Regions from separate parts of the Homo sapiens genome. Here region 2 is linked to region 1. A link means that fine-mapping ties the variant in region 1 to the expression of a gene that starts in the linked region. Tissue or cell type: whole blood. Region 1 holds a variant in brackets; the other region holds the start of a gene. Each region is shown on its reference strand, or each on the opposite one. Region 1 overlaps ZNF169 (zinc finger protein 169). Region 2 holds the start of CYP2C8 (cytochrome P450 family 2 subfamily C member 8).

Region 1 (5,382 bases):
CAGGAGTTCGAGACCAGCCTGGCCAACATGGTGAAACCCCGTCTCTCACCTAAGGTCAGGAGTTCAAGACCAGCCTGGCCAACATGGTGAAACCCGATCTCTACTAAAAATACAAAACTTAGCCGGGCATGGTGGTGCACGCCTGTAATCCCAGCTGCTCAGGAGGCTGAGACAGGAGAATTGCTTGAACCAGAGGTTGCAGTCAGCCAAGATCACGCCACTGCACTCCAGCCTGGGCAACAGAGCGAGACTCTGTCTCAAAAAAAAAAAAAAAAAAAAGAACTTAGTCAATAATTACCTAGGAGTTACGGTATCAACTTACGGAAGCTGAAAGCACTGCCAATTTCCAGAGCCTTTAATTTATACCATCATGGGAATTAGTGTTATCTCCAATTGGCAGCCTATTTAAACCTAGAAACAAAATTTTTTGAAAAAGTCAATTTGTATAGTTTTAACAGTTTTTGTGCATGGATAAGAATATGCTTAAGCCGAAATATGTATAATCCCTGAAACATCTTTATGCTAATGAGAAGTCATCTATTATTAACTTTCAAACGCTGAGCTTCTCCTTAATTCACCAGATTTTTTTAAAAATCCTGGATTATTGAGCAAAACAGTGTACGTAGTGTTGTGCAATGCTATTCGGGGAATATACTTGGCTGCAGTCTTCCCAGAGGCTAGAGGACAGCACCTTCATTTGCCCGGAGGGCAGCATCAGGGATTCCTCTTCTTCAAGAGGACTTAAGGGTGTCCATACAGTTCAGGAGACAACTCACATCAGGCTGATATGGAAGCTCCCTGGCCTAAAGCCTATTCCACACAGGAGCCAGTATCTCTTGCTACAGCTTATCTGATTCGTGGGTGCCCCTTACTTGAGTCACCACAGTCAAGGAAGCCCAAAGCATGGCTCCCCTTCAGATGCTAAGATCTTATTTATAGCACCTTCAAGATCATAATCAGTCTGTTTCTTAACTGCAGCTCAGACACCAAGTTCTTGGCTCTTGCATAAACAGCAGGCCGAACAAATGTTTCTCAGGCAAGGTTTAATAGGCTTGAGCTGGAGCAAAAGCAAGGGAGCGGCGCCCAAGAAAGGAAGATAAATGTGTAACTCTACTTGCAGCAATTTATAGAGCTGAAGCTGCCTGTGATGCTTTTTTGAACCTTTTAGTTTGGCTGATAGGACTAGTTTGTAGTGTGGGTTTTCTGTGCTGCAATAGAGCATGTAATGTGCCCTTGTGGGTTGGAAGATAAGTCTTTGTTGTGAACATCTGAAGAAAACTGCTGGGCAGGTATTACAATCCATGGTCACCTGTGGTGATTCTGACCAAGACTTTCTCTCTAGCAGAGCCTAGAACAGAATTCCAGCCAAGTTTTCCCCACCTGGTGGCCTTTTCTAGCTCGCAGCTCCTCAGACAATATGCGCTAAGTGGCCATCCCACACAGATCTTCCCAAGCTCATCTGCAGGAGGTGACTTCCAACTAGAAGCTCCAAGATGCTCTAGTGAAAAAGGAGAAAGTGGAGAGACAGAAGGCCCCGACAGCTCATTAAGAAAGAGGCCAAGCAGAATTTCTAGGACATTCTTCAGCCCACATCAAGGTGACCCAGTAGAATGGGTAGAAGGGAACAGAGAAGGAGGAACAGACCTTCGCCTGGCCCAAAGGATGAGTCTTGGGGGGTCAGACACAATGTTGAAGGGAGCAGACACTTCAGAATCTGGAGCAGTCATACGTGGAAACTATAGACTGGGACTTAGCAAAAAGTCAAGCCTGTTCAGCCACCAGAAGCATCATGTGTGCCCTGAATGCGGGAGAGGCTTTTGCCAGAGATCAGACCTTATCAAGCACCAGAGGACACACACCGGGGAGAAGCCATACCTGTGTCCTGAGTGTGGGCGTCGGTTTAGCCAGAAGGCCTCCCTCTCCATACACCAGAGGAAGCACTCGGGGGAGAAGCCGTATGTGTGCAGGGAATGTGGGCGACACTTCAGGTATACATCCTCTCTCACTAATCACAAGAGGATTCACTCCGGGGAGAGGCCCTTTGTATGTCAGGAGTGTGGGCGAGGCTTTCGCCAGAAGATAGCCCTCCTTCTACACCAGAGGACGCACTTGGAGGAGAAGCCCTTCGTGTGTCCTGAGTGTGGGAGAGGCTTTTGCCAGAAGGCATCACTCCTCCAGCACCAGAGCTCACACACAGGGGAGAGGCCCTTCCTGTGCCTTGAGTGTGGG[C/T]GTAGCTTCAGGCAGCAGTCACTCCTCCTTAGTCACCAGGTCACACACTCAGGAGAGAAGCCTTATGTCTGTGCTGAGTGTGGGCACAGCTTTCGCCAAAAGGTCACTCTCATCAGGCACCAGAGGACACACACAGGGGAGAAGCCTTACCTGTGCCCCCAGTGTGGGCGGGGTTTTAGCCAGAAGGTCACCCTCATTGGACACCAGAGGACACACACAGGGGAGAAGCCCTACCTGTGCCCTGATTGTGGGCGTGGCTTTGGTCAGAAGGTCACCCTCATCAGACACCAGAGGACACACACAGGGGAGAAGCCTTATCTGTGCCCCAAGTGTGGGCGTGCATTTGGCTTTAAGTCGCTCCTCACCCGACACCAGAGGACACACTCAGAGGAGGAGCTTTACGTAGACAGGGTGTGTGGACAAGGACTTGGCCAGAAGTCACACCTTATCTCTGACCAAAGGACACACTCAGGAGAGAAGCCCTGCATTTGCGATGAATGTGGGCGCGGCTTTGGCTTTAAGTCTGCCCTCATCCGACATCAGCGGACCCATTCTGGGGAGAAGCCGTATGTCTGCAGGGAGTGTGGGCGTGGCTTTAGCCAGAAGTCTCACTTGCATAGACACAGGAGGACCAAGTCTGGTCATCAGCTCCTACCCCAAGAGGTCTTCTGACCTTTCCTTTCCCCGTGAGTGTGAAGCTGGCAGAAATCACTAGTAAATGCTTCAGTTTCCTGAAATGGAATGGAAAAAAAAAAATGTTGCTTTCTTTCATCGATCATGAGATAGTTGATTTTTGGTTTACTTTCTATATTCACAATTTGTCTTGGCTTGCTAGGGGTTCCATAACAAAGTACCCCAGGCTGGGTGATTTTGACAACGGAAATATATTTTCATATTTATGGAGGCTGGAAGTCCCAGATGAACGTATTGGTAGGTTTGGCTGCTGCTTAAGCCTCTCTGTTTGGCTTGCGGATGGCTGCTTTCTGGCCACGTCCTCACGTGGGCTTTTTTCTGTGTGTATGCTTTCCTGGTGTGGCTTCCTCCTCTTCTAGGGACACCAGTCATTTTGGATAGAGCCACAGCCACATGGCCTCGTTTAACCTTAATAACCTTCCTAAAGGCCTTATCTCTAGATACAGTCACACTACACAGTTAGGACTTCAACATATGAATTTCTGGGAAACCCAATTTAGTCTATAACACTCCACTACCAAAGTTCAGGTCCCTCAGACATTCAAAATACATTCACATGATCCCAACAGTCCCAAAATTCTTTACCCATTTCAACTTCACCTCTAGATCCAAAATCTCATTTAAATATCATCTAAATCAAGTGTGAATGAGACTTTAGGTACAATTCATCCTTAGGCAAAATTCTCCAGGTGTGATCCTGTGAAACCAGACAGATATCTGCTTCCACAATATTCTACAATGGTGGGACAAGCAGAGGCTGGACTTCCCCATTCCAAAGGAAAGACATGAGAAAGAAATGAAGAATGATGGATCCCAAGCAAGTCTCAAACCTGGCAAGGCAACTTCCATTAGATTTTAAGTCTCGAGAATAATCCCCTTTGGCTCAGTGCTCTGCCTTCTGGGCCAACTGGATTGGCAGCCCTGCTTTTTAGGCTCACGGGAGCTGCAGTGTCGCTCCCTTGGCCCTTGGCAGCGGCTCCTGGCCCACTGAAATTGAGGAGGAGACACACTTGCCCTCTAGACCTGTACTCTCTGGGCCCATTAGAACCTTTGAGAATCACATTCTTCCCTTTTCTTGAAGATTAACGTGCGTTTGCAACTGGATAGCTCTATTGTACCTTCCCGTAGAATCCCAGAAGTCTAACAGCCTGCCTTCATTTTTGTCCTGTCTCTTTCTCTATTCAGTTCAAGCTGGCAGCATTTCTGGTGAGATGGTTAATTGGTTCCATTCAGACCTATACTAATCTCTTTATCACATGGTTGTCCAGCCACACCCTAGTGTTCTTTCAAGAACATACTTTCTCATTTTTTGCAATGCGGACAGGCTGAGAATTTTCCAAATCTTTAAGTACTGGTTCTTTTTTGCTTAACAGTTCCTTCAATTTATCTTTCTCCTCTAATATTTTACTATAAGCAGCAAGGAGAAAACAGACTCCACTTGCATCACTTTGTGTAGAAATATCACCTGAATATTCTGCACTGCCTCACTCACAATTTCTGTACTCCACAAAACACTAGAACGCAATTTGGGCAAGTCCTTTGCAAGGATTCCAGTTTCCCATTACCCATTCCTCATTTCTGTCTGAGACTTAACCACAATCACCTTAAAATTAAAAACAAAACAAAACAAAACAAAAAAAAACCCCAAACATTTTGTAGATACGGGTTTTTGCTATGTTGCTTAGGCTGGTCTCATACACCTGGCCTCAAATGATCCTCCTGCTTTGCCCTCTCAAAGTGTGAGCCACCACACCCAGCCCAGAACCTTTTAACATCTACATTCCTACCAACAGTGTTTTAAAGGTCATCCAGGCTTTTCCTAACATGTGCCTCAGAACTCTTGTAGCTTCTTTCTACCGAGTACCCAGTTCCAAGTCACTTCCACATTTTAGGTTACAAAGCATCCCAATCACAGTACCAAAATCTGTATTAATTTGCTAGGGCTGACATAAGAAAACACCAGACTGGGTGCCTTAAGCAATAGAATATTTATCTTCTCACAGTTCAGGAAACTGGAAGTCCTAGAATGAGGTGTTGGCAGGTTTGGTTTCTACTAAGGCCTCTCTCCTTGGCCTGCAGATGGCTGCCTTCCCTCTGTGGTGTCTCATAGCTTATTCTTTGTACACACACTTTCCTGGTGTCTCTCATTAAAAGGACACCAGTGATACTGGATTAGGGCAACACCCTAAAGACCTTGTTTTAACCTTAATTACAACTTTAAATGTCCTGTATGCAAAAACAGTCACACTGGGGATTAGGGATTCAACATATGAATTTGGGTGGGGAGGGACACAATTTAGTCCATAACACTCTGCCTTCTGGACTTCCAAAATTCGTATCTAGCCGTGAGCGCCTGCCATAAGAGTGCTCTCTTGAATTCCTTTCCTTTCTCCATAAGTGTGAAGATGGCAGAAATCAATAACAGATGTTCCACTTTCCTGATATGGAATGGAGGAAAAA
Region 2 (5,328 bases), not on the chromosome of region 1:
TTACCAAAGCTGACACAGAAATATGTGCACCTACCAAGTCCTTTAGTAATTCTTTGAGATATTGGGGAATTGCCTCTTCCAGAAAACTCCTCTCCATTATCAATCAGGGCTTCCTTCACTGCCTCATATCCATGAAACACCACTATGGGATTCATGCCAAAATACACGGTGAACACAGGACCATAGACTTTTGAGAACTGGGAAAGGAAATGCAAATAGCAGCAAAATAAGTCGCTATTTGCTCCAAATACTATGTATGATTCAGACTGACATTTTCATTGTATTTTTTAATGTTCATATTTGCCACACATAGATTCGATATTTCTGAATTTTGTACATAAATGTGATGGTGATTGTTATAGCTGCCACTTATAGATGGCCTGTGATGTGCCACGCAATGACCCAGGCAATTGGTACACAAATCACACAGTTCATCCTCACTTCAACACATTCAGCACATTCATTTGACCTGTTTTAAAAATGAAGAAACTGAGGCCAGAGAATTGCAGATTCATTCTCAGAGTCCCACAGGTAATATGTAGAAGCTCCAAACTGGAATCTCTGCTAATTTAAACTGATGCTTGAGCAATTAATCAATCCCCCATGTCCACCTTGAGGCCACTACCCAGCTAAAGACTTCAGGGTCACTTGTAAAGCTCTTAACATGAGGATTCTGATACAGCAGTCCTGTGATGAACCCTAGAAATCTGTATTTACAGTGTCACCCCAGGTGATTCTAATGCCCAGTCCAGTTTGTAACTGCTGGTATTACCAATATGGAACGATGAAGCACCACAAAGTTAGAATCAGGACATTCAGCATCTCCTGGAAGAACAATTTCTTCCATTCTCCAGCAACCTTGGCCACAGACAGTGGCTTTCTTCAGAATCCAAAAGAATTCTGTTAACTACCTATTGGGCCCTGACTGATTACTTCTTTCTTTCATGCACTTATGTTTGCCCTGAACCCACAGATATTTATTTCACATCAGCCATCAAATGAATCTTCAGAGAAGTTCAATTTTCATGACCATTCTGAATAAAACACATGACTACTATAGTAGAGAACTTATTGGATGAAATTTCTAATCACACACACTTCCCTTCACCTTCAGTCAAAAATCATAGCAAAACACTGTGAAACAAAGAGGAGAAACAGCACTTTAAACTTTTGCCACTGTATTAAATGATTATATAATACAATGACCCCAATGTTTCTGTATTCACAAAATGCATCAACTCACTCCGCTATTTCTGACAATGACAGACTTAGAAAGACAAAAGAGGCCAGGTACGGTGGCTCACACATGTAATCCCAGCACTTTGGGAGGCCAAGGCAGGCAGATCATGAGGTCAGGAGACTGAGACCATTCTGGCTAACACGGTGAAACCCTGTCTCTACTAAAACATACAAAAAATTAGCCGGGCATGGTGGAGGGCACCTGTAGTCCCAGTTACTCGGGGGAGGCTGAGGCAGGAGAATGGTGTGAACCTGGGAGGCAGAGCTTGCAGTGAGTGGAGATAGTGCCACTGCACTCCAGCCTGGGCAATAGAGCGAGACTCCGTCTCAAAAAAAAAAAAAATAGGAAGACAAAAGAAACATCAAAGAAGTTCAGAGGGAGTATTTTGCTTTACAATGATCTATTATAATAGTGTGCTTCCAGGAATATATTTTGTCTAAAAATAGCAGTCAAATAACTTACCCTTTGCAATTGGCTGGAGGAACATAAGGCAGACTTACATTGGTGAAAGATTTGCAGATGTCCTTAACATCTATCTGTAGCATATTTCCAATAATAGGAAGAGGAGTGGGGCCAGGAGGGAGCTTCCTTCTCCTACAGCTCTGTCTCCAGAGTGAAAAGAGAAGCATAAAAGAGAGACACAGCACCAGGACCACAAAAGGTTCCATTGAAGCCTTCTCTTCTTATTAAGACAGCTGTGAGCTTGCACTCCAAAGTTTTTATAACACTCCCTGCTAATTTAGTGTGTGTCTCTTTGACATGTAAAGTAAACAATCACCTAGATCCAATTTATACTTTTTTTCTGAGTGGACTTTGGCCCATGGATAGAAATAAAATGTTCTTTTGTCCTACTCCTTCTTTCCAGTGCCAATCTAGGAGATTCTGGTTTAATTGTATTGGATTGGAGCCCAGGTATTTTTAATTAAAAGTCCCTGGTTGTTCCAATGTGCTGTGATGATGGAGAAACACTGAAGTAAATGATTCTATGTTAGAATATACTCAAAATTCAATATTCTCAGATTAATGACCAGTTGGGAATTTATGACCTTGAGGGAAATCAGTGTATTCTATATTTTGTGTATAAAAAATGTACATTGTAATGCTATATCAAAAAATAGGAGACTTAGCCCTTGATAACAAAAGCCTTTCAAATATTTAGTATAGTTCACTTAAAATACAGCTGCCTAAACATGAAATAGTGAATATAACTCATACATGTTGAATTACCATACATATATCAAATTATTAGCTAATAAATGTATATTTATATATATTTAAATGTATATAAACAATATACATAAATATATATGTTATTACATAATAATATTTGTGTTATTATTACATTATTATAATAATAGGTGATTATTTACTTTACATGTCAAAGAGACAAACTGAATTAGCAGGGAGTGTTACATACATTATTACATAATAATAACATAAATACATATTTATACTATTAAATATTATATTAAATATATAAAAGTATATATATAAATGTATATTCATCATTAAAAGAGACTGGAGTATAAAGATTATCATTTTTTATTTTTCAAATTGGGAAAGAAACTCTGGGAGAACAGGACACCTGTCAGTGCCACACAGCTCATTGCCGGTAAAACCGGGATTTGAGCAGAGATCTTCTGATACCCATTGGGGTTCATTACCACTTACACCACAGCTGGCTCAAGAACAATTTTAGAAAAACAAAACAAACCCCAGACATTAGTTACTCTGAAGATACGCCACCTTGACTCTGTTCAGAAAGCAACAGGCTTCACATTAAATAGAAGTCCGTTATTTGTTTATAAGGATAAGAGGACCGGAGACGCTCAAAAGAAGAAATAAAAATTAGAGTTCTCCCCTCTGCATCACCTCACAAGTGAAAGTTGTTCAGCACTATTAAGGAAAGGGCCAATCTCACATAATTTATGGCACAGGGCTTGAAAATCTATGGCTTCTCCACCTTCCAGTCACCTCCAGACATGGCTGCTTCTATTGTTTTTGGTCTGTTATTGTTACAAATAATAGAATGTAATCATACACAGCAAGGAAGAGAAATTATACACAGAACAACAGTTGTGGATTCAACAGAAGATGGAACACAGGGAAATCACTGAATGGACCCAGGGCACAGAACCACTGCAATGTGCAGACCTGAAATGGGAACTGATAGTCAATGGTCATGAAGATCTAAATACAACTGGATTTATGAACATTACTAGATCACTAATAACAAAGTGTGTATACAAAGGCATGCTCTGAAAAGATTACCTTTATTCTAAATTGACCAGTACAGTTATTTCCAGCTCTTTCATTAAGAAAATATTAAGACCCAGTTATACAATGTTTTATCGATTATGTTTATAGACATTATGACAAATTTACAGAGAATTTTCACACTCATCACATCTCTTTTTATTCTCTCAATTATCTTTGCCCACTGTAAAATTATTCCCAGTTTAGAGAGGAGAAAGTTAGACCATGGAGATTCAGTACTTTAGCTAAGGACACACAGAATGCAAGTGACCAAGCTGGGGCTGGAAACCATAACCCCTGCATCTTGCTGCCTTCCTTTTAAGCAAAACATCCAGTTAAACCGGGCCACCAAGATTGACTAAAATTCAATACTTGTGGATTAATCTAATCAGTGACTTTCAAAATAAACATTAATTTAGTTAATAATTCTAGCACCAGTTGAGTAAAATGTGGGTCAGACGTGTTTGGTTTTATAACCTTTAAAAGGTGAGTGAGTCCAGGTCCTGGTGAACCCTTTATCCAGGGCAAAGGGAAGTAGTAATTTGCTGCCTCACTCACGTAGGTATAAGCTAGTTTATTTGGATAAAATAAGTTCACTTTCTCTCTTTAGAGCAATAATTTTATTCCTTGAGAAACAGTTGCCCTTGCTCTGCTCCTTGTTTCTTCTCCTGAGCTGAGGCTCCTGCCTTGACCTTTCTTTTTATAGAATAAAAGGAACATAGATAATTTAAAGACAGACGGGATCTCTGAGATCTACTAATTTAATTTTGCTTTGTTTTTCAGGAATGAGCAATTGGTGACTCAGTGAGTTAGAGCATTATCAATGCACCAGTAAAAGATTTTGTATTAGAATCCCAGTTTTCCTGCTTGGTGGTTCAGTGAAATACCCTATCCTATAGAATTCCCACCTAAGTCCAAATGATCAAGAGTGTATTAGCATTAATTAAGCCCTCTACAGTCACAGATTGACACCCACCTCAGCTTGGATAGGGTTGTGAATTAGAGCGGGGTTTTTTTTTAATTAATAGAATTTATTTTTATAGCAATTTTAGGCTCCGAGCAACAGTTCCCACAAACCCCTTCACCACACCTACAAATAGTCTTTCCCACAATCAACAACCCCCATCAGTGGGGTTCATTAGTTACAGTCAGTGAGCCAACAATAAGACATAATCATCAACCAAAGTTCGAAGTTCACATAGGGTTTACTGTTTGTGTTGTACATTCTATAAATTTGACTGATGTATAATGCCATATATCCACCATCGTAGCATCATACAGAATAGATTTGCTGTCCTAAAAACCCCCCATGCTCTGCGTATTCTCTCCCTTCCATGCAAGTCCTTGGTAACAAGTGAACCACAGTTCACTTTAGTGTTGCCATGGTTTTGCCTTTACTATAAGAGATTGTTATATAGTTGGAATCACACAGTATGTAGCCTTTTCAGGCAGGTTTCCATCACTTATTAATATGCAGAAGGTTTCTCCATGTCGTCTCATGGCTTGAAAGCTCATTTCTTCTTACCACCAAATAGTAATATAATAATATTCCCTTGCATTGATGTACCACAGTTTATCTGTTCATCTAGTGAAGGATATCTTGGTTGCTTCCAATTTTGGCAATAATGAATAAAGATGCTATAAATGTCCTTGTGCAAGTTTTGTGTGGACATATGTTTTCAACTCATTTGGCAAATATCAAGGAGCACAACTGCTGGATCATATGGTAAGCATATTTTAGTTTTGTAAAAGCCACCAAACTCTCTTCCAGAGTGTCTGTGACATTTTGCATTCATATCAGCAATAACTAATAGTTCCCATTGCTTCAAATC

Evidence for each region. PIP is the estimated chance that this variant, and not a neighbour inherited with it, causes the effect.
Region 2: it holds the start of CYP2C8, and the variant in region 1 is fine-mapped to the expression of CYP2C8 in whole blood (TOPMed, PIP above 0.99).

Annotation. Positions count from the first base shown.
Region 1 is chr9:94,298,470-94,303,851 of GRCh38, forward strand. It overlaps ZNF169 (zinc finger protein 169), which reads left to right. Exons shown (of 5, transcript NM_194320.4): 5 at 1,346-3,360. The coding sequence ends at 2,901. Among named protein-coding and RNA genes, the nearest start is that of NUTM2F, 27 kb to the right of the region's middle. The variant C/T (reference allele first, on the strand shown) is at 2,230.
Region 2 is chr10:95,067,495-95,072,822 of GRCh38, forward strand. CYP2C8 (cytochrome P450 family 2 subfamily C member 8) reads right to left here and starts at 2,003. Exons shown (of 9, transcript NM_000770.3): 1 at 1,741-2,003; 2 at 35-197. The coding sequence starts at 1,908. RefSeq lists a promoter at 1,908-4,875 and a cis regulatory region at 3,818-3,838.